Linked DNA regions of Homo sapiens. The protein of the gene in region 1 purifies or fractionates together with the protein of each later gene. This does not show direct contact. Each region holds a gene or a part of one and is shown in the gene's direction. Other genes may lie near its edges. The genes, in order: ICOS, MELTF, ERLIN2, FAM234A, PCDH1, KLC1 and GSTZ1.

The links.
Region 2: the proteins of ICOS (region 1) and MELTF purify together in Homo sapiens (affinity purification with mass spectrometry; one large-scale study listed by BioGRID and IntAct). This does not show direct contact.
Region 3: the proteins of ICOS (region 1) and ERLIN2 purify together in Homo sapiens (co-immunoprecipitation; one study listed by IntAct). This does not show direct contact.
Region 4: the proteins of ICOS (region 1) and FAM234A purify together in Homo sapiens (affinity purification with mass spectrometry; one large-scale study listed by BioGRID and IntAct). This does not show direct contact.
Region 5: the proteins of ICOS (region 1) and PCDH1 purify together in Homo sapiens (affinity purification with mass spectrometry; one large-scale study listed by BioGRID and IntAct). This does not show direct contact.
Region 6: the proteins of ICOS (region 1) and KLC1 purify together in Homo sapiens (co-immunoprecipitation; one study listed by IntAct). This does not show direct contact.
Region 7: the proteins of ICOS (region 1) and GSTZ1 purify together in Homo sapiens (co-immunoprecipitation; one study listed by IntAct). This does not show direct contact.

Annotation. Positions count from the first base shown.
Region 1 is NC_000002.12:203,939,427-203,943,559, forward strand, and holds part of ICOS (inducible T-cell costimulator precursor), read left to right. Parts: exon of another isoform or gene 1-1,008; coding exon of another isoform or gene 1,009-1,069; intron 1,070-1,090; exon of another isoform or gene 1,091-1,332; intron 1,333-4,133. UniProt on the Homo sapiens protein: Stimulatory receptor expressed in activated or antigen-experienced T-cells that plays an important role in the immune response.
Region 2 is NC_000003.12:197,016,039-197,020,171, reverse strand, and holds part of MELTF (melanotransferrin isoform 1 preproprotein), read left to right. Parts: intron 1-370; coding exon of another isoform or gene 371-567; exon of another isoform or gene 568-1,219; intron 1,220-2,881; coding exon 2,882-3,069; intron 3,070-3,802; coding exon 3,803-3,983; intron 3,984-4,133. UniProt on the Homo sapiens protein: Involved in iron cellular uptake. Seems to be internalized and then recycled back to the cell membrane. Binds a single atom of iron per subunit. Could also bind zinc.
Region 3 is NC_000008.11:37,753,634-37,756,910, forward strand, and holds part of ERLIN2 (erlin-2), read left to right. Parts: intron 1-281; coding exon 282-482; 3' UTR 483-3,277. UniProt on the Homo sapiens protein: Component of the ERLIN1/ERLIN2 complex which mediates the endoplasmic reticulum-associated degradation (ERAD) of inositol 1,4,5-trisphosphate receptors (IP3Rs) such as ITPR1.
Region 4 is NC_000016.10:240,985-245,117, forward strand, and holds part of FAM234A (protein FAM234A), read left to right. Parts: intron 1-1,633; exon of another isoform or gene 1,634-2,916; intron 2,917-4,133.
Region 5 is NC_000005.10:141,868,189-141,872,321, reverse strand, and holds part of PCDH1 (protocadherin-1 isoform 2 precursor), read left to right. Parts: intron 1-2,694; exon of another isoform or gene 2,695-2,717; coding exon of another isoform or gene 2,718-2,805; intron 2,806-2,890; coding exon 2,891-3,753; intron 3,754-3,843; exon of another isoform or gene 3,844-4,133. UniProt on the Homo sapiens protein: May be involved in cell-cell interaction processes and in cell adhesion.
Region 6 is NC_000014.9:103,631,846-103,635,978, forward strand, and holds part of KLC1 (kinesin light chain 1), read left to right. Parts: intron 1-4,133. UniProt on the Homo sapiens protein: Kinesin is a microtubule-associated force-producing protein that may play a role in organelle transport. The light chain may function in coupling of cargo to the heavy chain or in the modulation of its ATPase activity.
Region 7 is NC_000014.9:77,327,016-77,331,148, forward strand, and holds part of GSTZ1 (maleylacetoacetate isomerase), read left to right. Parts: intron 1-456; coding exon 457-537; intron 538-896; coding exon 897-1,022; intron 1,023-2,107; coding exon 2,108-2,186; intron 2,187-2,739; coding exon 2,740-2,792; intron 2,793-3,294; coding exon 3,295-3,344; intron 3,345-4,053; coding exon 4,054-4,133.

The DNA of each region.
Region 1 (4,133 bases):
ACGAAAAATGTGAATGTCTAACTACATTTTGAAGACCCTCTTTGTAGACCTTATAGGCAACAGGGACCATATGAGTGATGGGACAAATTCTGGTTTTAGAAAGACTACTTTAAAAGCAGTGTGGATAATACACCAGATTGGGAAGGGCTGATGGCAGAGGGTGTCTAATAAACGTGCATGTATTATGATGTGTTCTGTGAGGAAGCTGGGAGGATAGCCCTCAAGGCCACTTTGAGCCTTCCTTTGTCACTGAGGCATTCCATTAGTGACTCCTGAATTCCACTTGGGAAAAGAGCCCCTCAGTGTCTCCAGCGTCTGAGAGAAGTCTGTGAAGATGACTGACCTTGGAGCCCCTCTTAGCCTCTCCACGACTGAGTAAATGTCATCTCCTGACAGCACCCCCTTCCAGAGTGTTCTTGTTAGATTTAACAAAAATCCCAGTTGTCAATTTTTTCTTTTGATAGATGAATTCAGGCCATTCCCAGTCAGCATAAGCCTCTACTTGATTTTATTTCTATGTTTATTTACTACTTATTTTTCTTTGTTGTATCCTCTTTTTCTCTTTTATTTTTGTTGGTGTGATGAAATTTCTTTTGACTCTCCTCTTTGCCTCCGGTTAATTTGGAAGGTCGACTACAGTTCTTAATTTACTAAGTAATTGACATGTTCAAAGAATCTTAATTGAATGTCTACTTGTTTATCATTGTATGAAAATAATGAAAATGCCTTTGTCTGATGTGCCTAGTCCCCATCCCCTGCACTGATATGAGAACTTAAGAATGTTCTTCCTTTCCCACTCTCACACTTCCCCCAGACAGTGCACCCTGCTCCATACGTGGGTTTTGTGGAAATAATTTAAAACTTACAGTTGCAGATCATTGCTAGGTTTCCTCTTACAGTATTTCTCTTCTGTTTCAAGAATCCTTTCTTAACACTTACATCACATACGTTCAATGACAACATCATTCTGGACATCTGCTCCTGTCTTGTGATCTCTGTTCTAATCTAATGATCAGAAGACTTCTCTTATTTTCGTTAAATACCCCCAACTCTCTGAATTCCAGTACAGGTAAGGGTGTCTTCCTTTTACCTTGATGAGTGACTGATATCTTTCCTGGGAATAGGAGTCCTGGATGGCAGCCTTTCTTCTTAGTGGTTGCAGATATTCCTCCACTGTCTGCTGGCTTCTAGGGTTGTGGGTGAAGAGTTTGATGGTAGTCTAACTCTCATTCCTTTGTAAAAAAAAAAAAAACTCTAGAATTTCATAATCTTGAAAGCTATTTACTTCAGTATTGGAATTCAGGAATTCCTCCAGGATATGTGTAACTCTCTCCCTCTGTTTCTCTTTCTGTGTGTTTCTATTAATTTTTTTTTTGAGGCGGAGTCTCACTCTGTCGCCCAGGCTGGAGTGCAGTGGCGCAATCTCGGCTTACTGCAACCTCCACCTCCCGGGTTGAAGCGATTCTCCTGCCTCAGCCTCCCAAGTAGGTGAGACTACAGGCACCCGCCACCACGCCTGGCTAATTTTTTTGTATTTTTCGTAGAGACGGGGTTTCACCGTGTTAGCCAGGATGGTCTCAATTTCCTGACCTCGTGATCCGCCCACCTCCGCCTCCGCCTCCGCCTCCCAAAGTGCTGGGATTACAGGCGTGAGCCACCGCGCCCCGCTGTTCTATTAATTTATTATTATTTTTTTTAAGACTGGGTGAAAGTTTTCAATCTCTAGACTCAAGCTTTATTCTTCATTTCAGTCATTTTTTTCCTAGTATTTGTTTAATCATACCTTATGCTGTTTTTCCCCACTCTTTCTAGAAATGTCTCTTATTCTTATGTAAGATCTTGAGTCCCTTATTTTTTCATCATTTGTGAACAAAATGGCTTTCACAACTTGCTGTTGCTTGTTAACCACAACTCCTTCAGATGAAATGGATATTTCAGTTTTAAGTTACTAGTAGCATATTCCCATTTCTTGGTAGAAACAAAATGCAGGCATGTAGGGGGGACTGAAATTCTTATATTTACTCACTGTAAGATTCATAGCATTATTTGGCTTAAAAAAATTCATCCCAGTATTCACAGTTGTAAACAGCAAAATCTACAACATATACTGCTTCCCTACTCTAAGAATATTGAGTTTTATATGCAAAATGACTTACTGGGCTTTGCAAATTTTTAAAAATGAGTTTTAAAATCATTTGTAGCTTGCAATAACTGAAGAAAAGATCACAATTTCTCTGTAAATGGCATCTCAGTACTACTGCTGTTCTAATAAACTAGGTCTGTCAAATGGCACTTTTTGGTCATTCAAAGTGAAAAAAACATGGCATTTGAAACCTTATAAAAATTCACAATTATATTTTGGAAAGTGGAACTTAAGTATGTAGGGGATATGTCACACAAATTGAAAGTGTTAGTCAAGAAATGATTTTTTTTTTCAATAGTTTGGCCTGTAAGGTTGACCAAAACAGGTAAAGATTTGCAAGTTTAGAGAGTCAGAAACTGGGGATATGAACTTCCTTCTGGTTCATGTATAACATAATGATGCTTGTATCTACTTTGCTTGAGGAAAAAAAAGAAACACGTTGTCCCCAAATAGGGTGATAGACCAGGAGTTTCCATCCAGTTGACCACGAGTGTTGTTAGGATCTGTTTATTTGAGTCATGTTGACACAGACACAGCACTTTCAATAAGCAATTAATGATCATTTAAAGGTAACTTTTTTGAATTTGATAAATAGATTTTTTTTACAGCCTGTATTTGTGTTCTTCTAGGACTTTGCAACAAAGAATCTGTACATGCAAAAACAACAATAACAACAACAAGCTGTCTACTGCACTCACAGTTAAAGTTCTGTTTACTTTGCACTATCTAGGACTAATGCAAAAATCTCATAGATGTGCCTATTTGCACTTATTTAATTATGATGAAATTTACTTCTATATGTGAATCCATTTCTGTACATTTCTACAGGCAGATAAGTGATGGGAAAATCATTAAGAATTTAGACTTCATCAGAGAAGAACCCAGGTACAATGACAGCCCAGCTTAATACATGATGGCTGATGAATGAAAATGTCTAGGGAAATGAGTGTGTTATGTACAATGTAATTTCATATCTAAGTCACTTTAAAATAATTTTTTGATATATAATAACCCTTTCAATCACAGAACACATATGTGGCACCAATGTGAATACTACTTTAAGTATTAAGGTGATAATATATCCAATATACCTAGAAGGAAAATAAATACCTGAAATTCATTTTCATATCTAGCTTAATGTTAAAAGCTTCTTTTTGTTTTTTTATTTCGTAGCAAATCTCTTTAGCTCTGATGCTTTAGTTTCTGTACAATGAGAGGATTGGACTAGATTATTAGGTGAAGAGATTAAGTAAGTGTGTGTACCCTGGTGTCAAATTATCTTATTCTTTTTTCTTTGTTTTTGTTGGACTGGGTTAATTCGAAGACCTTGTCTTCAAGCTCTGAATTTCTTTCTTCTAGTTGTTCAATTCTATTGCTGAGACTTTCCAGAGCATTTCACCTTTCTAAAATTGTGTCCAAAGTTTCCTGAAATTTTTATTGTTTTTTCTTTAAGCTATCTATTTCCTTGAATATTTCTGCCTTCACTTCTTGTATCATTTTTTGCATTTCCTTGCATTGGGCTTCACCTTTCTCTGGTCCCTCCCCGATTAGCTTAATAACTAACCTCCTGAATTCTTTTTCAGGTAGATGAAGAATTTCTTCTTGGTTTGGATCCATTGCTGGTGAACTAGTGTGATTTTTTGGGGGTGTTGAAGAGCCTTGTTTTGTCATATTACCAGAGTTGGTTTTCTGGTTCCTTCTCATTTGGGTAGGTGCTGTCAGAGGGGAGGTCTAGGGCTGAAGGCTGTTCTTCAGATTTTTTTTTTGTCCCATGGAGTGTTCCCTTGATATCATACTTTCCCCTTTTCCTATGTATGTGGCTTCCAGTGAGCCAAACTGCAGTGATTGTTGTCTCTCTTCTGGGTCTAGCCACCCAGCAAATCTACCCGGCTCTGGGCTGGTATTGGGGGTTGTCTGCACAGATTCCTGTGATGTGAACCATCTATGGGTCTCTCAGCCATGGATACCAGTGCTGTTCTGGTGGAGGTGG
Region 2 (4,133 bases), on another chromosome or scaffold:
TTTTGAAGCATCAGGCCGGTTATTTTATAGAATGTCCCTCAATTTAGATTTGCCTGAAGATTGTTTCTTTTTTTAAATTGAGATATAATTTACATGCAGCAAAATTTGTTCTTTTTGAAGGATAGTTCTATGAGTTTTGCCAAATACATGCAGTTGTATAACCACCACCACAATCGAGATCTTGATGGGGCAGACCCTTCAGCCCAGGAGTTCCTCAGGCCCCTGCTAGTTATCTCCCCGCACCTGCCAGCAAGCAGCAAACACACCGTTCTGTCTGCAGTTTTGCGTCTCCCAGGACGTCTGATGATTGGGTTTTTTTTTTAAATCATTGTCATTCTTTGCTGTTATTAACCATTGCCTTTTAAATCAGAAAGTCCATCACGAAGGCAAACATGGACCAGATCTGAGGAGGAAGAAGGCGAGTGCCCTGCACACGAGGAAGCACGTAGGACGATGCGCTCTAGTGCTGGGCAAGCCTGGAAATGGGCTCCCGTTCACAGGCCCCAGGACGAGTCTGACAAAGGAGAATTTGGAAAACGGGCAAAGAGTAGGGATATGTTGGGTTAAGAATCAGCTCTTTCAAACTTGGGGTTTTTTTTGAGATGGGGGTCTCACCATGTTGCCCAGGCTGGTCTCAAACCCCCAGCCTCAACTGATCCTCGCATCTCAGCCTCCTGAGTAGCTGGGATGACAGGCGTGCACCTGGCAGCTTTTTCAAAGTGTTGATGGTAATCTGAGGCAATCTAAGGGAGTCATTTTTTAAGTGACTTTATACAGAAAGATTGGTAAGAGCCAAGGGGTAGAAGTGGCATAAATGTCTAAAGCAGGGAAGTGACAGGACTTTCATTGTTCTTGGCTGAGGAGAAGCGGGAGTGGCTGATGGAAGCACCTAAATGATGCCTTTGTCTGTGGGAAGGCAAATGATGCCCCAGAGCTCTAACCAAAGGTTTTGCAGCCGCCGAAAAACAGGAAAGTTGGGAAGCGGGGGTAGGACTACACTGAATCATTAACAGTGCTGTAAACTACCATGTGGCCATTAACAATGACCTTTAGGGAGTTTTCCTAAACGATCACTCTGGTGCGGGTGTTTGGTTTTGTTTTAAAATAGCTTTGCAGTGAAAGCTTTCATGACCATACAAATTATCTTTTTTCTTCCTATTTCCTTGTAGAGGTTTTTTTCCTCCTTGTCTTAAGGTCATAAAAATATTGTTATGTGGGACCATCTGTGGTTTAATTATAGTCCTTAATATTCGTCTTCTCAATATCCCTGTTTGGTGTTAATAGTTACTCTTGCAAATTTTCTTTTCTATCGAGAAACAAATGAACTTATGGAAAGTTTCCAATACTGTGGAAAAATACTCTACCAAATAGGATGCAAAATTGCCTGTCAACTATGTCCTTAACCAGGTTAAAAGCGGTCAAAAGGAGGCTGGGCACGGTGCCTCACGCCTGTAATCCCAGCACTTTGGGAGGCCGAGGCTGGCAGATCATGAGGTCAGGGGTTCAAGACCGGCCTGGCCAACATGGTGAAACCCCATCTCTAGGAAAAATACAAAAATTAGCCAGGCATCTTGGTGCACACCTGTAATCTGAGCTACTCGGGAGGCTGAGGCAGAAGAATAACTTGAACCTGGGAGGCGGAGGTTGCAGTGAGCCAAGATCATGCCACTGCACTCCAGCCTGAGCGACAGAGTAAGACTCCATCTCAAAAAGAGAAAAAAGGCCAGGTGTGGAGGCTCACGCCTGTAATCCCAGCACTTTGGGAGGCCGAGGTGGGTGGATCACGAGGTCAGGAGATCAAGACCATCCTGGCTAACACAGTAAAACCCCATCTCTAATAAAAAAAAATACAAAAAATTAGCCGGGCGTGGTGGCGGGCACCTGTGGTCCCAGCTACTCGGGAGGCTGAGGCAGGAGAATGGCGTGAACCCGGAAGGTGGAGGTTGCAGTGAGCCGAGATCGTGCCACTGCACTCCAGCCTGGGCGAAAGGGCCAGACTCCGTCTCAAAAAGAAAAAGGGGGGGTGAGGTCAAAAGACAGGAAATAAAATAGAAAAAAGGACTTGAAAGAAATCCATCGCAATATGAATAGTTGGAGTTATGGGAGATCCCCCGTCCTCTCTAGTCCTGGGGTGGGTAGATTCCTTCGGGGTTTGTTTCCACCGTGGCCCCTGCTCCGGGAGCCCTGCCCCCTGCCCCCTGCTCAGAGCCAAACGCAGTGCCTCATGGCAGCCGCAAGCTCATCCTAGACTCTTGGTACATTCATCTGTCTCACCCAAAGCCTTTCTTTTTTTTTGAGACAGAGTTTCGCTCTGTCGCCCAGGCTGGAGTGCAGTGGCGTGATCTCGGCTCACTGCAAGCTCCGCCTCCCAGGTTCACACCATTCTCCTGCCTCAGCCTCCCCAGTAGCTGGGATTACAGGCGCCCGCCACCACGCCCAGCTAATTTTTTGTATTTTTAGTAGAGATGGGGTTTCACCGTGTTAGCCAGGATGGTCTTGATCTCCTGACCTCGTGATCCGCCCACCTCGGCCTCCCAAAGTGCTGGGATTACAGGCGTGAGCCACCACGCCCGGCCAGCCTTTCTTATTTTCTTACTTTTTTTATCTTGAATAGTTATTTATAAGTATTGTATTACTGTCAGATACCTCCAATTCACTTTAGCAATAGAAATTGGTGAGAGCTAGAAAATGAGAGTAACGAGATAGAGTCTGTGTAGGTACCTGGAGTTGGGTGCGGCCACCAAGCTCTGCCACCTTCTGAATGCTGGGTTCTCATGTCCATGACACCCAGCCACCCCTCAGATTCCCTCTCCTGGGCCTTCCCCGCCACCCGCCCCAACCCCTTTCGGAGCTGGCTCAGCCCAGGCTTCCTGCTTCCCAGGGAAGACGCTTCCCTCCTGGGGCCAGGCCCTGCTGTCACAGGACTTCGAGCTGCTGTGCCGGGATGGTAGCCGGGCCGATGTCACCGAGTGGAGGCAGTGCCATCTGGCCCGGGTGCCTGCTCACGCCGTGGTGGTCCGGGCCGACACAGATGGGGGCCTCATCTTCCGGCTGCTCAACGAAGGCCAGGTGGGCTCAGGGTCCCCCAACCACCTGCACAGCTTCCTAGATGGTGCCGGGCCTTGTGGTCGCTCAGCAGGGTGGGACCAGGAGGGGCAGGACCCAGAGACTGTCCTTGGGACGGACCCCAGCATCGGGCCAGGTCAGAGTGAGGAACCGACTATGCTGGCTGGCCAGAAGGAGGGCTGGCCAGGAGAGGGGGGCCCAGAGGAGGGGGACCCAGGGATTCAGGCACCCTCAGAAGAAGCTCCTGAGACTTGTGTCTCTGAGAGCTAAAACCAAAACATATGAGCAAATAAACCAAGTAACAAAACCAGCGCCTTTCAAAGCACACCATTAATTACATGTGGCGAATAAGGTTTGGCTAAAACCGCCGCTTGTGACAGCAATAGACTTCTGACTGCTGGTGCCCCAGGCTCAGTTAGTTTTGCCCTATCCAGGCTGCTACCACCAGCCCCACGGCGTGTCCTCAGGACCGTCCCATGCCTGGCCACAGCCATGTGTCCAAACAGCTGAGTGTGAGGAGGCCAAATGAACTCAGAGTAGACCCAGAACTGACAGGGCCCAGGGGAAGGAGGCCGCAGATCAGGGGAGGCGCCGCAGAAGAGGGAGGCCTCACCTGGCCCTCAGGGTGGGTGCCTGGTCTGAGGTCGGGGAAGAAGGAGGTAGGGGCCAAAGTGGGAGGGAAGGATATGGCCTGTCAGCACCCTCACCACCCTGTACCACACCCCTTGACACACAGCGTCTGTTCAGCCACGAGGGCAGCAGCTTCCAGATGTTCAGCTCTGAGGCCTATGGCCAGAAGGATCTACTCTTCAAAGACTCTACCTCGGAGCTTGTGCCCATCGCCACACAGACCTATGAGGCGTGGCTGGGCCATGAGTACCTGCACGCCATGAAGGGTCTGCTCTGTGACCCCAACCGTAAGTCCACCTGTCCCCACTGCTGCCAGCTCCAGCCCAGCTCAACCTCGGGCATGGCGAGGCTCTCTGGGAAAGTGGCCGGGGGAAGACGCTCACCAGGGAGGCCTCTGCGGGAACCTGTCATTTCCATTCCTCTGCCCCTGGGGCTTT
Region 3 (3,277 bases), on another chromosome or scaffold:
GGGCAGAACTGAGGATGCCTTTGCTGTGTGGTGCAGGTACTTTCCTTCTCCTTGGACATGCCTTGATAGAAGTTTAGTTTAATTTTGTGTTAAACATGGAAACTTTTAACTTTTGCACCTATGCTCCAAGATCTGAGATGACTGTCTCTTACAGAAATGTAACAATGAGACCACAAAAAGTAGGTAGGGGCATAAATATAGGAAAATTGAAGGGGCACCACTCCCCTCCTTCTCTAATATGGTTCAACATAAGTCTTCCATACTTTTTTTTTTTTTAACAGCTGAAGCTAACCCCTGAATATCTGCAGCTGATGAAGTACAAGGCCATTGCTTCCAACAGCAAGATTTACTTTGGCAAAGACATTCCTAACATGTTCATGGACTCTGCGGGCAGTGTGAGCAAGCAGTTTGAGGGGCTAGCTGACAAGCTAAGCTTTGGCTTAGAAGATGAACCCTTGGAGACGGCCACTAAGGAGAATTGAAAAAAACTTGATATGACTGCAAATGATACTTAAGCAGATCTTTATTTTTTAAGATGAATCAGAATGTTCCTCCCTCCCCGACTACCTTCTCTGACTGTCTTCCAGTTACTGTGGTGAAAAAGAAGAAATGAACTTAAATCCACTCCCTTTCTAGGGAAAGGAGGGTGGGGACTGATGATGGGGGGTTTTATTTCAGGTAAGCAGTTTATATGACTTCCAATAAGATTTGTAAATCATGGGCTTGACCTTTGACCTCTAGACACTAATTTTATCCTTTGAGGCTGGCTTAATTAGGGATGCTGTCATTAAGGAGAGGGAGAAATGTAGAGTGTTACCTCCAACTCATTTGATTTCCCTTACTTGGGAAAATGCAGTCCAGTGTTCTCACCTCTGCCTCCAAGGTAGGAGATGTCTGTGGGTGAGGCTCAGCAACTGAGCAAATATGTGCCTGTGAGTTTGCCAGTAGAGCTGTGAAGAAACAGCTGCAGAGAACATTTGACCTTCCTGGCATTCTTGTCTGCATGTGTGTGAGTTATTTTAGAGGTGTGCTTTCTTGAGCCCTCATAAGGAAGTACTGGTGCTAGGTTTTGCAAGATTTTGTATACACTTTGCTCCTTGCCCTAGGGCTCAGAGTGGTGGTTTCTGACTACATTTCTAGAGTCAGAGCTTGATCACCACAACTCAATTATTTCGGCATCTTTTCACCTATGCTGTGATTTGTTTTTTTTTTTTCTTCTCAAAAATTCTGTTCATTGGTTCCACTCAGCATCAAGAAGACAGGGACAAACAACTCAAGTGTCTTAACAGCTGCTGGAGTGGGATCCTTGTTATCTCTTAGCCACTGCAGGACCTGCCTGACAGGTTATGTGTGCACCTCGAGATGAAGTGTCTTTCTATTATTGTAGAGATTCTGTAGTGAAGAGGTCTGACACCATGTGTGGAGGAGGAGGAACGATCAGTCAAGAGATGTCCTGGTCTTAATGCCTGTGGCTTGTGCTGGGAGTGGGTCTGACTTAGTGATAAAAGGACTCTATTCACTAAGTAGCCTGTGTTTTTAAATCCAGGGCTGCAGGCAGCAACGCAAGTCAGGCTGAACATTCAGTCTCCAGAGACAGCTGTGTGGAGCAAATCAGAGTTCATGCCCAAGTCCCCAGGTTGGAATGGCTGTGCCAAAATCCATTCAAAGGGTTTTCTTTTTCATTACTAGGTCAGAACATTTTGAGTCACCTTGGGAGATTCAGGATGGGGAGAGCAAATTTGAACAAAAGGTTTTTCTTATATCCTGAGATTGAGGGGTAGGGGGTGTCCAACCTGTATAGCCCATGGGTTGTGTCTAGAATTAAGTGGAGGGCAGCTATCTGGAGTTAACTTGCAAGCATATTGGTGCCCTCCATGACCACCTCTGGCTTAGGACTTGGCCCTGTTATGAGCTGACCCCCACCCCCCACCCCCCACCCCCCCCCCCCGCCAACTCCTATACCCATCTTCCCTAGGTGAATCTGTGAATGGTCCTTTCTGGCAGCAATCCCTGCCTTCTTTTTGGGCCCATGCCCAGACTTCTGGTTTAAGGAATGGTCCCAGAGCTTGGGCCAGCTTGCTCAGAAGTTTTGGGAGCATTGAGCCTGCCTAGAAAGATACAGTGTTAGCTCCCCTTACTTCAAAGTTGCCCTTCTCTGTTCTGACTCCTGGGACTTCTGGTCCTGGGCACACTTTTTGCAGGCAACAAAATGTGCCTGGGAGTGATGGATTTTAATGTGCTCCAGAGTCCTTTCAGAAGGTGGTCATTTCCCTTGGCCGGGCGCGGTGGCTCACACCTGTAATCCCAGCACTTTGGGAGGCCAAGGCAGGCGGATCACCTGAGGTTAGGAGTTCGAGACCACCCTGGCCAACATGCGAAACCCCATCTCTACGAAAAATAGAAATATTAGCCGGGCATGGTGTCAGGCACCTGTAATCCCAGCTACTTGGGAGGCTGAGGCAGGAGAATTGCTTGAACTCGGGAGGCAGAGGTTGCAGTGAGCCAAGATCATGCCATCCCACTCTAGCTTGGGCAATAGAGCAAGGCTCCGTCTCAAGAAAAGAAGGTCATTTCCCAAGACTAGCATAGGGAGTATCCATTTAAAATACATTCATCTTCCTCCCATTTCCGTGCTATTAATCACTTGTTAGAGCAACATGACATGCCCAGCATCCCACTTCCCGAAAATGTCTACTCCTTCTACTCTGAGCTCTTGTTGCCTAGACCTCAGAAAACACCAATTCACCACAGTAGAACCGGGAGCAGGGATAGCTCAGCTTCTCTGAATAGCACACTTTGCTCAGGTCTTAACTTGAGGGCCTCTCCGGTACTAACATCCTGCGATAGCTTGTCCCATGAGCACAGAAGAGCCTCAGTAGAGTCAAGTCCTGCTGCAGCTGCCCCACCCCAAGTTTCTATCATTTCCTCTTTAAACAAAAAATATGTTATCCTACACATTAGTGTCAATCCAATGGTTGTCTCTTATCTGTCTAAATAGCAAAATCATGAAAATCAGCTGTTTTATTTGCATAGGACAACTAACCTGTCTGTGTAACTTTGTTTTTATTTTAACTCTTACTAGAAAATCTAATCTTAAAACATTTGAATTCTAAACATGTAAAATGTGACAGCCTGCAATTTTGTAGACAGTGAAGTAATGGCTGCTATTTATAAATGGAACATCTATCAAAATAAGTAACTGTTTATAAAATTCAGTTTTTGTAGGGTTTTCCAAGGAAAAATCACCTTGGTTGAATGTTTCTCACTCATTAAACTT
Region 4 (4,133 bases), on another chromosome or scaffold:
CTGGAATGCAGTGGTGTGATCTCCGCTCACCTCCCAGGCTCAAGGGAACCTCAGTCTCTCGCACAGCTGGGACTAGAGGCACATACCACCATACCCGGCTAGTTTTTGTATTTTTTTGTGGAGGTAGGGTTTTGTCATGTTGCCCAGGCTGGTCTCGAACTCCTGCGCTCGAGTGATCTTCCTGCCTCCTGCTGTAGCCTCCCGAAGTTGCTGGGATTACAAATGTATGCTACTGTGCCTAGCCTTAAAACACTTATCTTGACCGCAGAGGAGGTCTACACAAAAAGAAAGAAAAAAAAAAAGCTGTCTGCTTCAGGCTGGGCACGGTGGTTCACACCTGTCATTCTAGCACTTCGGGAGGCAGAGGTGGGAGGATCACATGAACCCAGGAGTTACAGAGGAGCCTGGGCAACATAGTGAGGCTCTCATTTCTACAAAAAATTTAAAGATTAGCTGAACAAAAATTAGCTGGTGCATGCCTGTGCTCCCAGCTACTGGGGAGCCTGAGGCGGGAGGATCTCTTGAGCCCGGGGATTCAAGGCTGCAGTGAGCCATGATTGCACCACTTCATTCCAGCCTGGGCAACAGAGCAAGACCCTGTGTCAAAAAAAAAAAAGTTTTCATCAAATTTCTGCAATTAAAAAAATTAGAGGCCGGGCGCGGTGGCTCAGGCCTGTAATCCCAGCACTTTGGGAGGCCGAGGCGGGCGGATCACGAGGTCAGCAGATCGAGACCATCCTGGCTAACACAGTGAAACCCCATCTCTACTAAAAATACAAAAAATTAGCCGGGCTTGGTGGCGGGCACCTGTAGTCCCAGCTACTGGGGAGGCTGAGGCTTGAAACCAGGAGGCGGAGGTTGCAGTGAGCCAAGATTGCACCACTGCACTCCAGCCTGGGCGACAGAGCGAGACAACGTCTCAAAAAAAAAAAAAAAAAAGGCAATTAGAATGAGACTTTTGTTTTTATTTTCTGTTCTCTGTGACTCAGTAAACTTCTTAGAGAAAGAACTCTTGGAGAAAAGGGAGAGACCTGTCACTTCCTTTCTGCATGGACTGTGGTATTCCTGCCCCACCCCTGCCGAAATGTTAATGAGCTGTGCAAACTACTGCTGGATTGTTTTGTTCTTCCCCCTAATCAGAGTTTCCACTCAGGACTGGGTAGCCTGTGGACTCCCTGGAGGACAGATAGGTGTGGCAGCCTCAGTGGCCTAGAGTGGACAGCTGGTTTACCGATAGTCCTTTTTTTTGAGACAGAGTCTTGGTCTATCACCCGGGCTGGAGTGCAGTAGTACGATCTTGGCTCACCACATCCCCTACCTCCCAGGCTGAAGTGATTCTCGTGCTTCAGCCTTCCCAGTAGCTGAGACTATAGGCAGACACCAACATACCCACCTAATTTTGTATTTTTAGTAGAGTCGGGGTTTCACCATGTTGGCCAGCCTGGTCTTGAACTCCTGTCCTCCAGTGATCTGTCCACCTCGGCCTCCCAAAATGCTGGGTTTATAGGCACGAGTCACCGCGGGCTTACTGATAGTTCTGTAGGCCAGGGGAATAATCCGTTTGAATAACCATATATGAGGTATTGTGTTTATCTTTCTTTCTTCAAGTTATTCTTGGTGTCAGCTCCTTTTTTTTTTTTTTTTCTGAGACAGAGTCTCGCTCTGTCGTCCAGGCTGGAGTGCAATGGCGCTATCTCAGCTCACTGCAACCTCTGCCCCCCGGGTTCAAGCGATTCTCCTGCCTCAGCCTCCTGAGTAGCTGGGATTACTGATGCACATCACCACGCCTGGTTAATTTTTTGTATTTTTAGTAGAGATGGAGTTTCACCATGTTGGCCAAATTGGTCTCGAACTCCTGACCTTGCGATCCACCCACCTCAGCCTCCCAAAGTGCTGGGATTACAGGCGTGAGCTACCACGCCCATCCCGTGTCAGGTCTTTTACCTTAATTAATACGTATTGTATTGACAAATTTTCTTTTCTTTCTGAGCCCTCACTTTTTTTTTTTTTTTTGAAACAAGGTCTCACTCTGTTGCCCAAACTGGAATGTAGTGATAATGATCACAGCTCACTGCAGCCTCAACCTCTTGGGCTCAAGCTAACCTCCCACCTCAGCCTCCCAGGTAGCTGGGACTACAAGCACATGCCACTACACCTAATTTTATTTTACTTTTTGTAGAGATGGGGTCTCCCCATGTTGCCCAGACTGGTCTCGAACACCTGGCCTCAAGTCATCCTCCTGCCTCAGCCTCCCAAAGCACTAGGATTATAGGCGTGAACCACCCTGCCCGGCCATGAAGTTAAATTTTTGGTTATTAGCTTGTTGAGTTCTGTTTTCTGTTTTTTTAAATAGCCACATGGCCTGACTCTCTGTGGTCAATGGTATGGATGCTAAAGTAGAGCAAGGACAGTGCCCTGCTCAAGTCTCTCTGACCTGGGTCCATGGGGATTTTCTCTGCCAGTCAGGTTCCTGAAGCTCTGGCTACGGCTCCTGGTATTTTTAATGACCGCAGTAGAGAAAAACATTGGTATCTTCTTGCTGTTGATGAGCAAATCTTTGGACCTGTCTCATGGTGTCTTTATTTGCAAACTGGTTGAATCATGAACTGCCTGGCTTTGGCTGCCTTGCCGTTGTGGCTTTTAATAACTACCCCTATTTCTGGTGGCTCAGTCAAGTTTCCAAAAAGGAAGTCTTACCTGGAGATCCTGTGAAGGAATTCCTGACCAGCTTTTTAATTTTCCAAAGACAGGCCTTATTCGTGTTAAACACACACCCCTTTTCTGTGGCCAGGCCGGTGTGAAAGCATGTGCAGAGGCTGTATAGCAGTAAGAGTTCCCACCCCTTGGGGCATTTTCATTGTCACCACATTGTCTGACTTTGGAGACGACCCCTTTTAAACTCTGGCATTTGCTCAGGTAAGTATTTGGGGAGTATTGTTATAAATGCTGTGCATATCCGTTTTTTCCCCACAGTGGAAAGGAAAATGATTTTTTTTTTTTTTGAGTCGGAGTCTTGCTCTGTCACCCAGGCTGGAGTGCAGTGGTGCCATCTCGGCTCACTGCAACCTCCGCCTCCCAGGTTCACACCATTCTCCTGCCTCAGCCTCCTGAGTAGCTGGGACTACAGGCACCCGCCACCACGCCCGGCTAATTTTTTCTATCTTTAGTAGAGATGGGGTTTCACCGTGTTAGCTAGGATGGTCTCGATCTCCTGACCTTGTGATCCACCCGCCTTGGCCTCCCAAAGTGCTGGGATTACAGGCGTGAGCCACCGCGCCCGGTCGGAAAATGATTTTAATGGATGGTTTTGAGGAAGCTGGTGATTATTTTGTAATGGAGAATTGTAACATGCCAGGGGTTTGGCTCTTCTTTCAGTATTTCTTCAGGCTACCACAAAACTCCACTATTGATATTCTTCCAAAAATAAACAAAACACTAAAAGGACTCCTGCCTTTGGAACAAAATAGCTTCATATTAAGGTAGCTTTGAGGCACAAACCAAGCTGCCTGTGGAGAAGCTGGTTCTTCCTCTAAAACTTACATGAACCTCTGACCCCACTCCCCCTTACTAACGGTTTTCTTTTCTCTTTTGATTTTCTATTTTATACTTTTTATTTTGGACTACTTATAGATTCACAAAATGTTGTAAAAATAGCACAGGGCTGGACCCTGAAGTCTGCTTCCCTGAATGGTAACCTCTTTTTTTTTTTTTTTTTTTTTTTGAGACGGAATTTTGCTTTTGTTGCCCAGGCTGGAGTGGAATGGCACGATCTTGGCCACTGCACCCTCTGCCTCCCAGGTTCAAGTGATTCTCCTGCCTCAGCCTCCCGAGTAGCTGGGATTACAGGCATGCACCACCACGCCCGGCTAATTTTTTTTTGTATTTTTAGTAGAGATGGGGTTTCTCCATGTTGGTCAGGCTGGTCTCAAACTCCCGACCTCAGGTGATCTGCCCGCCTCAGCCTCCCAACGTGCTGGGATTACAGGCATGAGCCATCGCGCTCGACCAATAACTACCATTTCAAATTCCCACGACTATTGTACTGCAGACCTGTTATCGTATATTCTCACCAACACATTTTAAAATGCTTAACTTTTAGGCTGGGCGTGGCCCACACTTTGGGAGGCTGAGGC
Region 5 (4,133 bases), on another chromosome or scaffold:
CCTGCCAAGACTTTTGTAGAGAATTAGGGTGCACAGTGATACCACATTGTATATGCAGAGGAGGGTGGCAGCAGGATACAGTCCCATAAGAAAATGAGGTTCTCTGGTGATGGTCCTTTGACGATGTGTTTGGGTTGGGGTTGAAGTAGTCAGATGAGCCTTGTGCCAGGTCCATGCAGGTGGAGGGGGGGGGTGGGGGGTGGATCCAAATGGAGTACAGATAAATTCCTGCTTCCTTTAAAGAGATTAACATTCACACCAATCTGATAACGCCGCACACACTTTAGGGAGGGGCCTGTGCTTGGGGAAGGCCATACAGAGGAGGGGATGTGTTTGATTTATCTAAAGACTCTGTGCATTCAGTGAACATTTGCTGAGAGTCTACTATGTGCCCTAAACAGAGAAGACTTACATTTTACCCCAGGAAGTTCTTAGTGGTGTAGGGGAATCGGGTAAGTGAGCAAGTAAAAGAGCAGTGGTCACACAGCAAGTACCAGGAAAGGCTAAGCCTAGAGAGCAAAATAACAACAGTCATTCAAGAGCTGCCAAGTGCCCACTGTGTGCCAGGTCCAGGGCTAAGCCCTGAGGAGGTAGGAGCAAACAAAGTAGAAACTCTCCTGCTTTCTGCTCACCATCTTGGAGCAAAGACAGACAATTAACACATTTTCCAAACAGGTACACAACTACAATTGTGCTAAATGCTTTGAAGGAGTCCTTTGTTGAGTACCCACATTTAGCCCACAGTATCTCAAACACCCTAGGAAATAGGTAGTATTATCCCCATTTTACAGGTAAGGAAACTGAGGCACTAAATCTTTGCTTCAGGTCATGCAGCCAGGAAGTGAGCAGCTGGGTTTGCCTCAGACTGTCTAATGCCACAACCCTCGCTCTTCTCCACCCTGCTGCCTTACATTCGCCAAATGGTATACAGAAGCAACCAAACAAAATGGACAAATAGTCATTGAGTTAGAAGCACTGTCATGGCAGATTGGACCAGTCTTGTTTACTTCTGCATCCCAGTGCCCAGGACAGAGCCTGGCATATTGTAAATGCCCAATAAACATTTGTTGAATGCATGACTGAGTCCCTACAGTGTACCCAGATGTGCAAAGGTGCATTGTTAGGGGGCAGGGGATGAGTGAGTGTACAGAGTACTGTCCCTTCCTTCGTAGTGCTTTGTGTTTGCCTGGAAAGGCAGAGAACTCAGGAATAGGTGCACAATACTGAAGCTGAACAACACAGGCGGGCGGTGTCCCAGTCAGCCCCATGATTCATTGCCTTGGGATTGGAGCAGACAATAAGTGGCTGTGAGTTGGAGGAAGGAGAGGTCACCGTGGGCAGGAGAGGACTGTGAAGGTTTCCTGGAGGGCCAGAGCCTGCCCTCAGTGGGATTGATGTGGGGTGGGTGTTCCAGGTGTGGGGAAGGTATTCCAGGTAAAAGTGAGGAAGTGGGGAAAGGAGACTGAACCAGAAGCCTCCAAAGAAACTGCTGATCCAAAGATTTTGGATTTGAATAAAGGAGGGACTGGCCATGATTTTGTTGGAGAGGAGGGGGCATTCAAGACAGAGACAGTAGCTGGGTCTAGCTGGGATCTGCAAATGCACGACCTCAAAGCCAGGGGAGATGGGCAGAAGAAGGGGGTTATTGTTGTGATGGGGTACAGCTTGTGGTTGACTAGGGCAGAGGTTGGGAGAGGCAAGTGTGAAGTAGGGGCTGGATATACGGAGATGGATGTCAAATAAGAGCCAGATGTTCATCCAGAGACCAGAGGGTGTGGGGTGGGGGAGTGGCCAGGGAAAGGCTGCTGGTGTCATTATCATCGGCAGCTCTGTCCCAGTTAGACCTGCTGGGCTCCCTGTTGCTAAGGACAGGCCAGGGCAGCTCCCAATGCCAATTCCAGGGCTAGTCAGCCCTGACCACAGTTCTGACCCCAATCTTGACCTGTGTTCCCTTGTACGCACCTGCCCATGGCAGCAGGAGGGAGAGGAGAGGAGCCCTAGCAACTGTGCATGTTCCTGTGTGCATGCTCTGGGGCATGTGTGCATGCTCTGGGGCATGTGTGCACGCTCTGTGGCCTGTGTGCACGTTCTGGGGCATATGTGTTGGGGGAAAGTCGGGAAGGCTAACACCTACTCCTCAACCCTAACCATTTTCACAAGCCTTGCCCAATTCAAGCTGGCCTTTTATGGGGGTGGAGAATACTGGGCACCGTGGGTGATTGTCAGAAAAAGAGGATTTGAGATGTCATACCTCATGCATATGCACTGACTTGGCATCTCAGAACAAAGAGAAATGAGACATCATCCCCTCTCCCTCCAGCCAACCTTAATGGAGCCCAGTGTGACAAGTCAAGGTCCCAGGGTCTGGGGTGTGTAAGGACGTACTTGTGTCTCTTTCCTACCATGCATGTGGGGAGGGGTGCTCCAGTTGGGGATGCTCGAGGTCTCACCCTTCCACTGGCTCTCTCTCCCTATCTCAGTATCAAGGTAATTACCATCGGTGACTAAGGCAGGATGCTCGTGAGAAGGAGGTGTTGGGTGAAGCACAGAGCAGAGAGCAAGGAGGAAAAGAAGGAAAGAGGGCGGGCAGCCGGGCTTGGGCCCAGGGAGCGTCAGGTGGGTGAGGGTGTTCCATGGGCGGGAGCTGCTCTAGGCATGCCAGGCCTCTTACTGGCTCCTCCAGCTGGGGCAGACACTGCTGCTACACCCAGCTGTGGATGAGATTCAGGGATCTGAGTTTCTGGAATCGGGGTTCTGTGCTGGGACTGACTGCTCTTGTGGAGAATCGTGTGTCAGTGGGAGAGGGTGAGTATGGGGCCAGCTCTGGGCAGCTCAGGGCCAGGCTTTTCTTCCCAGCTCATGGCCTCTGTTTTGCCTCTTCCCCTTGCAGCCCTCCTGATTCTGGGGCCTCCCAGGATGGAGCACCTGAGGCACAGCCCAGGCCCTGGGGGGCAACGGCTACTGCTGCCCTCCATGCTGCTAGCACTGCTGCTCCTGCTGGCTCCATCCCCAGGCCACGCCACTCGGGTAGTGTACAAGGTGCCGGAGGAACAGCCACCCAACACCCTCATTGGGAGCCTCGCAGCCGACTATGGTTTTCCAGATGTGGGGCACCTGTACAAGCTAGAGGTGGGTGCCCCGTACCTTCGCGTGGATGGCAAGACAGGTGACATTTTCACCACCGAGACCTCCATCGACCGTGAGGGGCTCCGTGAATGCCAGAACCAGCTCCCTGGTGATCCCTGCATCCTGGAGTTTGAGGTATCTATCACAGACCTCGTGCAGAATGGCAGCCCCCGGCTGCTAGAGGGCCAGATAGAAGTACAAGACATCAATGACAACACACCCAACTTCGCCTCACCAGTCATCACTCTGGCCATCCCTGAGAACACCAACATCGGCTCACTCTTCCCCATCCCGCTGGCTTCAGACCGTGATGCTGGTCCCAACGGTGTGGCATCCTATGAGCTGCAGGCTGGGCCTGAGGCCCAGGAGCTATTTGGGCTGCAGGTGGCAGAGGACCAGGAGGAGAAGCAACCACAGCTCATTGTGATGGGCAACCTGGACCGTGAGCGCTGGGACTCCTATGACCTCACCATCAAGGTGCAGGATGGCGGCAGCCCCCCACGCGCCAGCAGTGCCCTGCTGCGTGTCACCGTGCTTGACACCAATGACAACGCCCCCAAGTTTGAGCGGCCCTCCTATGAGGCCGAACTATCTGAGAATAGCCCCATAGGCCACTCGGTCATCCAGGTGAGAGGCCCCCTCCGTATAACTGTCAGGGTGACCCACCACTAGAAATGGGAGCCCACCCAACCAGGTGAGAGTTCCCTTCACTTAGGGGAAAAACTGCCAGAATACTGTAGTGAGACCCCTTCTCCCCAAACTCAGCCAGGGGAGTCTTTCCCACCCCACCCCAGCAGGTGATATTACTTTCCTCTATCAGGCTACTTAGGTGACAGTGAAATAGCATATGAACAGTTTCCCGTGACCCCTAAGGCAGACTCAAGCTGGGGGAACCTCTGAGAAGTAAAACTCCCGCCCTAGTCAAGTAGATCCTTCTCTGCTAGCCAGGTGAGCTGAGTTGGAACAAAGGAATCACCGTTTATCCAGGTAGAATCTCTCCTGAGATG
Region 6 (4,133 bases), on another chromosome or scaffold:
GCCTCAGCCTCCCAAAGTGCTAGGGTTACAGGTGTGAGCCATTGCACCTGGGCTGAAACCAGTATTTTATGTAGCAAAGAAATGATCAGTAATATACTCAAGACGAGAGTATTTGGGAAGATTTAAGTGTCAAATTTCAGGGCATAGAATAAAAGTGACAAGCACATTAAGATTGCAAATACTGGTCTTAAATGTCTGTTGGGAACCAACTGAATGGCAGGTACTGTGCTGAGTAGTCAGCGATACCTTGATAAAAGAGCCACTGTTGGCCGGGCGTGGTCATGCCTGTAATCTTAACTCTTTGGGAGGCTGAGGCTGCAGATCGCCCCTAGCTCTTTGGGAGGCCGAGGCAGGTGGATCACCTGAGGTCAGGAGTTTAAGACCAGCCTGGCCAACATGGTGAAACCCCGTCCCTACCAAAAATACAAAAATTAGCCAGGTGTGGTGGTGCACACCTGTAATTCCAGCTACTCATGAGGCTGAGGAAGGAGAATCGCTTGAACCGGGAAGTGGAGGTTGTAGTGAGCCGAGATCACGTCACTGCAGTCCAGCCAGACTCCGTCTCAAAACAAACAAAAAGAGCCGCTGTCAGCCGTGCAGTGGCTCACTCCTGTAATCCCAGCACTTTGGGAGGCCAAGATGGACCGATCACCTGAGGTCAGGAGTTTGAGACCCGCCTGGACAACATGGTGAAACCCTGTCTCTACTAAAAATACAAAAAAAACCAAAACCGGGTGTGGTGGCGGGTGCCTCTAATCGCAGCTACTCAGAAGGCTGAGGCTGGAGAATCGCTTGAACTGGGGAGGCAGAGGTTGCAGTGAGCCGAGATCACGCCATTGCACTCCAGCCTGGGCAACAAGAGCAAAACTCTGCCTCAAAAAAAATAAAACCAAAAAACAAAAAAACTCTGTCCTCTAGGAGCTCACAGGCTGGCATGGGCAGGTACCACAGACCAGGTTAAAGGCTGTGGAGTGCACTGAGGAGGCGATTCTTCACAAAAGAAAAGTACCAATCAGCCAGTGTCAGGGGGTCAGGGGTGGGATTGGGATTGGGGTTCCTGCTTGGAGGAAATAAATCCTGAGGTTGTGCTGCTGTAAAGGGGCATGTTGGGAAGGGGACATGGGAGTGAGTGTGGAAAGACGAGGTTAGGAAAGGCCTTGAATGACTTCTTAGAAGTCTGCTTTCATTCTGAGGTTTACAAAGGAGGGTTGGAAGATTTTTTTTTTTTTTGAGATGGAGTCTTGCTCTGTCACCCAGGCTGGAACGCAGTGGCACGACCTCTGCTCACTGCAGCCTCTACCTCCCAGGTTCAAGTGATTCTCCTGCCTCAGCCTCCCGAGTAGCTGGGACTACAGGTGCGTGCCACCACATCCGGCTAATTTTTTGTATTTTTAGTAGAGTCGGGGTTTCACCACGTTAGCCAGGATGGTCTCCATCTCCTGACCTCGTGATCCGCCCGCCTTGGCCTCTCAAAGTGCTGGGATTACAGGCGTGAGCCACCGCGCCTGGCCGGAGGGTTGGAAGATTCTGAGGAGCCAGTTGCCACTTTAGAAAGAGCATAGGCAGTGGTGGGGCAGGTGCTGTGAACTGGGATGAGGTTAATTAGGAAGCCATTAACCCCAACTCGGCAAGCCTCAGGATTAGGGCAGTGACAGAAGGAACAGAGAAGCTAGGTGGGGGCAGGGGCTGGGCTGTAAGGGTTATAGTGGAGCTGATTTGGGGCTGACTGGATTGGGGTAAATGAGGAGCTGCAGGGAGGACTCCCCAGAATGATCCTGTGAAAACCTGAGTCACTCCTCTGTTAAAGCTTTTGTCAGTGTCCTCTGAGCACCCCACCCTGTCTCTTTTCATCTTCCTGCTCTGGCCCTACTCAAGCACTTCCAGGTGCATCTGGAGTTCTGAACCAAACCCATTCTTGTAGTGATTAGCATTTCTTCACTTCCCCACATACTCCTTAGCCTCTGCCCTGATTTTTCTCCTTAGCACACCTCACTATCTTAAATGCTGTATTATTATTATTTTTTTTTTATTATTACTTTTTGAGACGGAGTCTCGCTCTGTCACCCAGGATGGAGTGCAGTGGCATGATCTCAGCTCACTGCATCCTCTGCCTCCCGGGTTCAAGCCATTCTCCTGCCTCAGCCTCCCAAGTAGTTGGGACTACAGGCATGTGCCACCACACCTAGCTAATTTTTGTATTTTTAGTAGAGACAGGATTTCACCATGTTGGCCAGGCTGGTCTCGAACTCTTGACCTTAAGTGATCCACCTGCCTCAGCCTCCCAAAGTGCTGGGATTACAGGCCTGAGCCACCGTGCCTGGCCAATACTGTATTATTTTAATCATTTTAAAATTTTTATTGTTTGTCTCCACTTAACATTCATAACCTCCACAAGGATGGGGAGTTTTGTCTCTTGTATTCAGTGTCGGTGCTTGGCGTGTAATAGGAACTTAGTAAATGTTTGTTGAAGGAATGCATCTAGAATGATCCTCATCTCTAATTTGGGTGATTCACTGGCTGGTGACACTCATCCAAGGAGGGAAAATGGGAGAAGGATGAGATTATGAGTTTGTTTTTGGACATGTTAAATCTGAAGTGCTTGTGGGGCAGCCAAGTGGACTAGTGGGCAGTTAGAGATACATCTTTGGAGCTCAAGACAGAGGCTGAGGCTGGAGGTAAAGATTCCAGAGACTGCATCATATCGTTGAGCCAGTCGGGTGTGATGTCCATCTGGTAGAGATGGGGAGTGGGTCTAAGAGGAGAGGGTCCTGGGAAACCAAGAGAAGAGGAGGGAGGAGATCAGTAGCAAATTGGCTAAGAAGTCAGTGATGGGTTGGACTGAGAAGTCTCTATGGATTTTGCTTCTAGGAGGTTACTAATGACCTTTAACTTTTTTTTTTTTAAATATAGTTTATGTAGAGACGGGGGTCTCACTGTGTTTCCCAGGCTGGTCTCGAATTCCTGGGCTCAAGCCATCTGCCTGCCGTGGCCTCCCAAAGTGTCGGGATTACAGGTTTGAGCCACTGCACCCGGCCTGTTGCCTGTTTCCTGAGAATATTACCTCTTAAGGATGGAGGCTATTTCGAGATGATCTTCATTCGTTCTCCCAAGGCATCCTTTGTGGCGTTGTACTCTGTAGCCTCCTAGTTAGTATACTCATGGATCAGAAATGAATTATGATTTTTTTTTAGTTTTAACTAATTTTTGGAGGCAGATGAAAGCAGTTTGCATATATGCTTTTTGAATTTGAAAAGTGCTATCTGAACTTAAAGCAACGGATATGGAGCAAACATGTTAAGCTGAGTTACGTGCATACGTGAACTGAGTTACTTCCTTGGTTCTAAAATATCTGTTACCTTCATTTAAACCATAGATTGTTCCCTGACTTCAGTTGCATAACATAAATTTATGTTCAGGCTTCTCTGAAGTTCACTATGCTGCTACTAAAACTGATCAGAGTGATGTTTGCACTGTTCCAGAGAAAATAGGTACTGTAAACCCTGCGGATGTCATATGTGTCTGTAGTTTCAGTTACTCCGAAGGCTGAGGTGGGAGAATCAGTTGAGCCCAGGAGTTCAAACTAGCTTGGGCAATATAGTGAGACCTTGTTTCTTAAAAAAATAAAAGGCTGTGCTTGGTGGCTAATGTCTGTAATCCCAGCACTTTGGGAGGCTGAGGAGGGCGGATCACCTGAGGTCAGGAGTTTGAGACCAGCCTGGCCAACATGGGTGAAACCTTGTCTCTACTAAAAATATAAAATTAGCCGCGTGTGGTAGTATGCTTCTGTAGTCCCGGGTATTTGGGAAGCTGAGGTAGGAGAATCACTTGAACCCGGGAGGCGGAGGTTGCAGTGAGCCAGATCGAGCCACGGCACTCCAGCCTGGGCGACAGAGTGAGACTCCCATCTCAAAAAGAAAAAAAAAAAGTAAAATAGGTACTGTTACTGAGATTCTACTGTTGAGGAATTTGAGGGTGAGAGAGGGGAAGTTTCAGAAACCAAAGTTACACAGCTGTGAAGTCAAGATTCTAACTCAGTTTTTTTGCTTCGCGGTATAAGCTTTGAATCACCTTGCAGTACTTAAAGCTGCAGCTTCAAGTGAATCATGATAATGCTGTTTAATCCTATCATTACT
Region 7 (4,133 bases), on another chromosome or scaffold:
GACTATCACTGCAGGAGGCTGCTGGCTCTCCCTTGTGGGACAAGGTGGCAAGGTGTGCAGTAGCAGGAGGCCTGGGAAGGGCCCAGGTCCAGACTGTGTACCCTAGCCTGGGCTCTCCAGTGCCTGACCCTGGGAGGGTGGGTGGCTAGTGGGTCCCCACCCCATACTGGGCCCTCTGGATGGCTGACTAGGGTAGGAGCTGCCTTGGTGGCCACGGTGTGAGATGCAGGGAAAGCCCATAGCCAGGCTGTTAGGATGAAGCCTATGGCTCAGCAGCAGCTGGGCTTTGGGAGACTGCATGGATCCCCCAGGGATTACCCTGGGCCTAGGATTTAGGGCCTTCCCAGGGAAGGGAGATGGGGGTGGGTGGCAGGCCTGGGGTTCTCCTGCTTGCTTGGCTTTCCTCTGGCCAACTCAGGCCAGGCCACCCAGCCCACCAGGGCCTTGTCTCCACAGTTTTCTAAGGACTTCCAGGCACTGAATCCTATGAAGCAGGTGCCAACCCTGAAGATTGATGGAATCACCATTCACCAGTCAGTGAGTGCAGGGCCTGGGGGAGGGCCCTCATGAGAGCAGTGCCCTGAATGAGAGCGCCTGACATCTCTTCCTCGCCTGTGTACAGTCAAGGTGCCTAGCACATAGGAGAGGCTCAATACAAGACTCGTGGGGAGGGTGCGAGGTTATTTAGGAAAATAAGGGAAGATTCAAGCACATGGAGAACCAAGTTCTGCATGATAAGGTCCAAAAAGGCTTATAGGGCTTGAGCTGAGCAGAAGCAGGGGGGAAGAGGTGTAGTGATGGTGCTGGAAGAGGAGAAGGAGGAGTTTGCTGGCCCTGTCCCCTCTGGTCCAGGGGTCCTGGGCCCTCTCCCTGCCTCACTGCTCCCCTCTGGACAGCTGGCCATCATTGAGTATCTAGAGGAGATGCGTCCCACTCCGCGACTTCTGCCTCAGGACCCAAAGAAGAGGGCCAGCGTGCGTATGATTTCTGACCTCATCGCTGGTGGCATCCAGCCCCTGCAGGTGTGGCACTTGTACACTTGCACCCTTGCACACCTGACACACTCTTACACTCACACATTGGCTGTGAGCTGCCCAGTGTGGGGGCGGGGGTGTCAAGGGAGGGAGGGGGATTCTCAGGGCCTCTGACCTGGACCATGTGAAAGAAGGGGGTGAAGATCGCAATCTCAGAATTCAGCCCCCCAGCGGGTCCCCCGCTGCGTTCCGAGAAGCTCTAGTTTCCAAGGACGCATGTACAGGTGCTTGGGGTGGGGAAAGGGCCAGAATGGCAGGGGAGAGACTGAGCAGGCCCCAGTCCAGGCCTCCTGCCTTTAACCAGAGCAGCTTCCGTTTCATCTGTGCTATCTCAGTCATATACTGGGATACTTGTAGGATTTTATTTTTTAAGTGTCACTGTTAAAACAGACAACTAAGTATTAAAAACAGTTCATCTGTGCCAGCTTCTACTCTGAATGAGGAAATAGCCCCAGAAAGGTGGAGTGACTTAGGAGTCCCACAGGTAGGTCATAACAAAGTGGGGACTAAGTCAGAATCCCTGCATGCCTATGCCCTCTACCCGCATGTCGCTTTAACAAAGGATGTTGGAGCAGACAGACATCTCCATTTTATAATGAGGAAACAGAGGGAAAATGGCTCCAGGGGTGCCAAGATGGAGCCAGGCTGGAAATCTCTGGAAGCCGGTCTTGTGGACCTCCCTCATCCCAGCCCCACCCTCTTTCACACTCCCTCTCCTCACAAGGGACCATGCAAGGGAGAAGTGAGGGAGACAGGCCTCGAGTTGTGGGCACACCTGCCACAGCCATGGCCGCGTCCTGTGTCACATGAATAGGGATTCTTGCACATCTCTGACAGAATCACGTGGCTTTTTGAGGCCACTGGGGCAGCCTGCAAAGGTGGCTGCTGGGATGGCTACCTCCCTCCAACCTCAGGGCCCTTGGTTGAAGGAAGGGGCTCATGGAGCCTGGGGGAGAAGGGATAGACATCCAGCCAGGGGCAGATGGGAAGTGAACTTCCCTGAGGGGGTTTGGCGAAGGGGTAGCCCCCACCCAGCTGTCAGCGCAATCACAGATTTTCTTTGGGCTGCACAGAACCTGTCTGTCCTGAAGCAAGTGGGAGAGGAGATGCAGCTGACCTGGGCCCAGAACGCCATCACTTGTGGCTTTAACGGTGAGTCCTCACCTCTGTGAGCTGCCCCACAGTGGCCTCTTAGAGGTATGGCCCTCGCACACAGGGGCCTGGGTATCTGAACCAGCCTCCCAGGCTGCTTTGGGCCTGACAGTTGCATGGATGAGGGCAGGACTGGGGAGGCAATGGGCTGGGTGGGCATCCAGACCTTAGCTCCAGCACTTCTGGGAACCTCGGTCCCTGAGCCCACAGCCCTTCATAGCTGGATGGCCCAACTTCAGCTTCACTGCCTACTCCAGCTGGGAAACCAAGGCCAGCACAGCGCCAGCCATCAGAGTGAGAGCTGTCACCGTGGCCAGTGGCAGGGCTTGTCCACTCGAGTGGGGAAATGGTGATTGTCTGTGCGGAGCCTCAGGAAACAGCAGCTCATCCCTAACAGCTCTCTCGAGACCTGGCTGCCACATTCTCACCAGCAGCCATGCCCAGTCTGTCACTCAGTTGGGCGCCCATTTCATAACTATGGAGGCCAAGGCCCAGAAAGCTTTGTGTCCCCTCCCTGCGCCCAGAATAAGATGTTTATGTGGCCTCCCCACAGCCCTGGAGCAGATCCTACAGAGCACAGCGGGCATATACTGTGTAGGAGACGAGGTAAGCTGTCCCCAGACCTCCCCAGGCCCAGCCACAGTGGCTGCCTCCCTCATGCTGACCTCCCTCAAGCTCAGAGCTTCCTGAGAAGGCGTCTGCAGGGGGATCTCTGTGCCATGGGGCACTCCTCAGCTCACTCCCACTAAACCGTCTTAAGAGGGAGTTACTCAAGGTAGAAGACTGGCTGTGAGAGGATGAGGCGGGCCAGCATCAGTTGAGGGATTGTGCTAGATGATGTCTGCGCAGTCAAGGCAATCCATCTTCTCTGGCCCTCTCAACCCACAGAGTTGGTTGTCAGGGCAACTGGAGCATGGCCTGGGAGGGCACTTCAGCTCCGGGGGACAGACTCATGCAGGCCTAGGGCAGACAAGAATTGGAGGTGGGATGGGTGAAAGAGCCGAAGCAGATTGTTGGTACCCCCAGTAGAGTCGCAGTGGACACACCCAGTCCAGCCACTGACTCTGGGGTATGCACCCTGATGGGAACCCACCGGGACCTCTTTCAGGTGACCATGGCTGATCTGTGCTTGGTGCCTCAGGTGGCAAATGCTGAAAGGTAAGAGAGAGCCCCGCCACCCTCCCTTCTCGTGGCTCTGCCCACAGTCAGGCCCCACTCAGCTGGCGAGATAGCATCTCATGCAGACGCTTCGCCAACCAGCCAAGGAGCCCACCATGCCAGGCCACATAGCCACTTCTGCCTGGAAGAGGGCAGAAGAAATTGGGGCAGTGCTCCTACTACGCCCACCACAGCCCAGATGAACCTGTATAGATAGCCCCAGCTCCTAAGAGGAGGTGGCTCACCTGGTGGACCCCCAAGAGCACCTGCCTGATGTCCTCAAATGTGGTGTGTCTGTGAGCAGTAGTGAGCTCTACCTCTGCATCCTTCCGTGAACCCTTTGGTAGGGCACAAATGAGCACCTCTCTGGAAGGCATCATGCTAGGCGTTAGGGATATGGAAACGTATGGCACATTCCCTGCCCCCAAGAAGCTTACAACATGGGGGAAGAGAGTCTGTATATATAAATGCCTAGCACTGGGCCTTACACATAGCAGGTTCACAAAGAAATAGGAACAGTAGGTAACAGATGCCAAATGATACTGCACAAGACCTACCCATCCCCTGTGAATAAGGGCTGCCCCATCGTCCTTCCCTGGACAGCTCCCTCGACCTCATCCAGCCCTGCCTCTCTGCTCCCCCTGCTGCATCAGGGCAGTCTCCCTGTGTCCCTGAAAACCTTAGCTTAGCAGGTGTTTCTCTACTACAGATTCAAGGTGGATCTCACCCCCTACCCTACCATCAGCTCCATCAACAAGAGGCTGCTGGTCTTGGAGGCCTTCCAGGTGT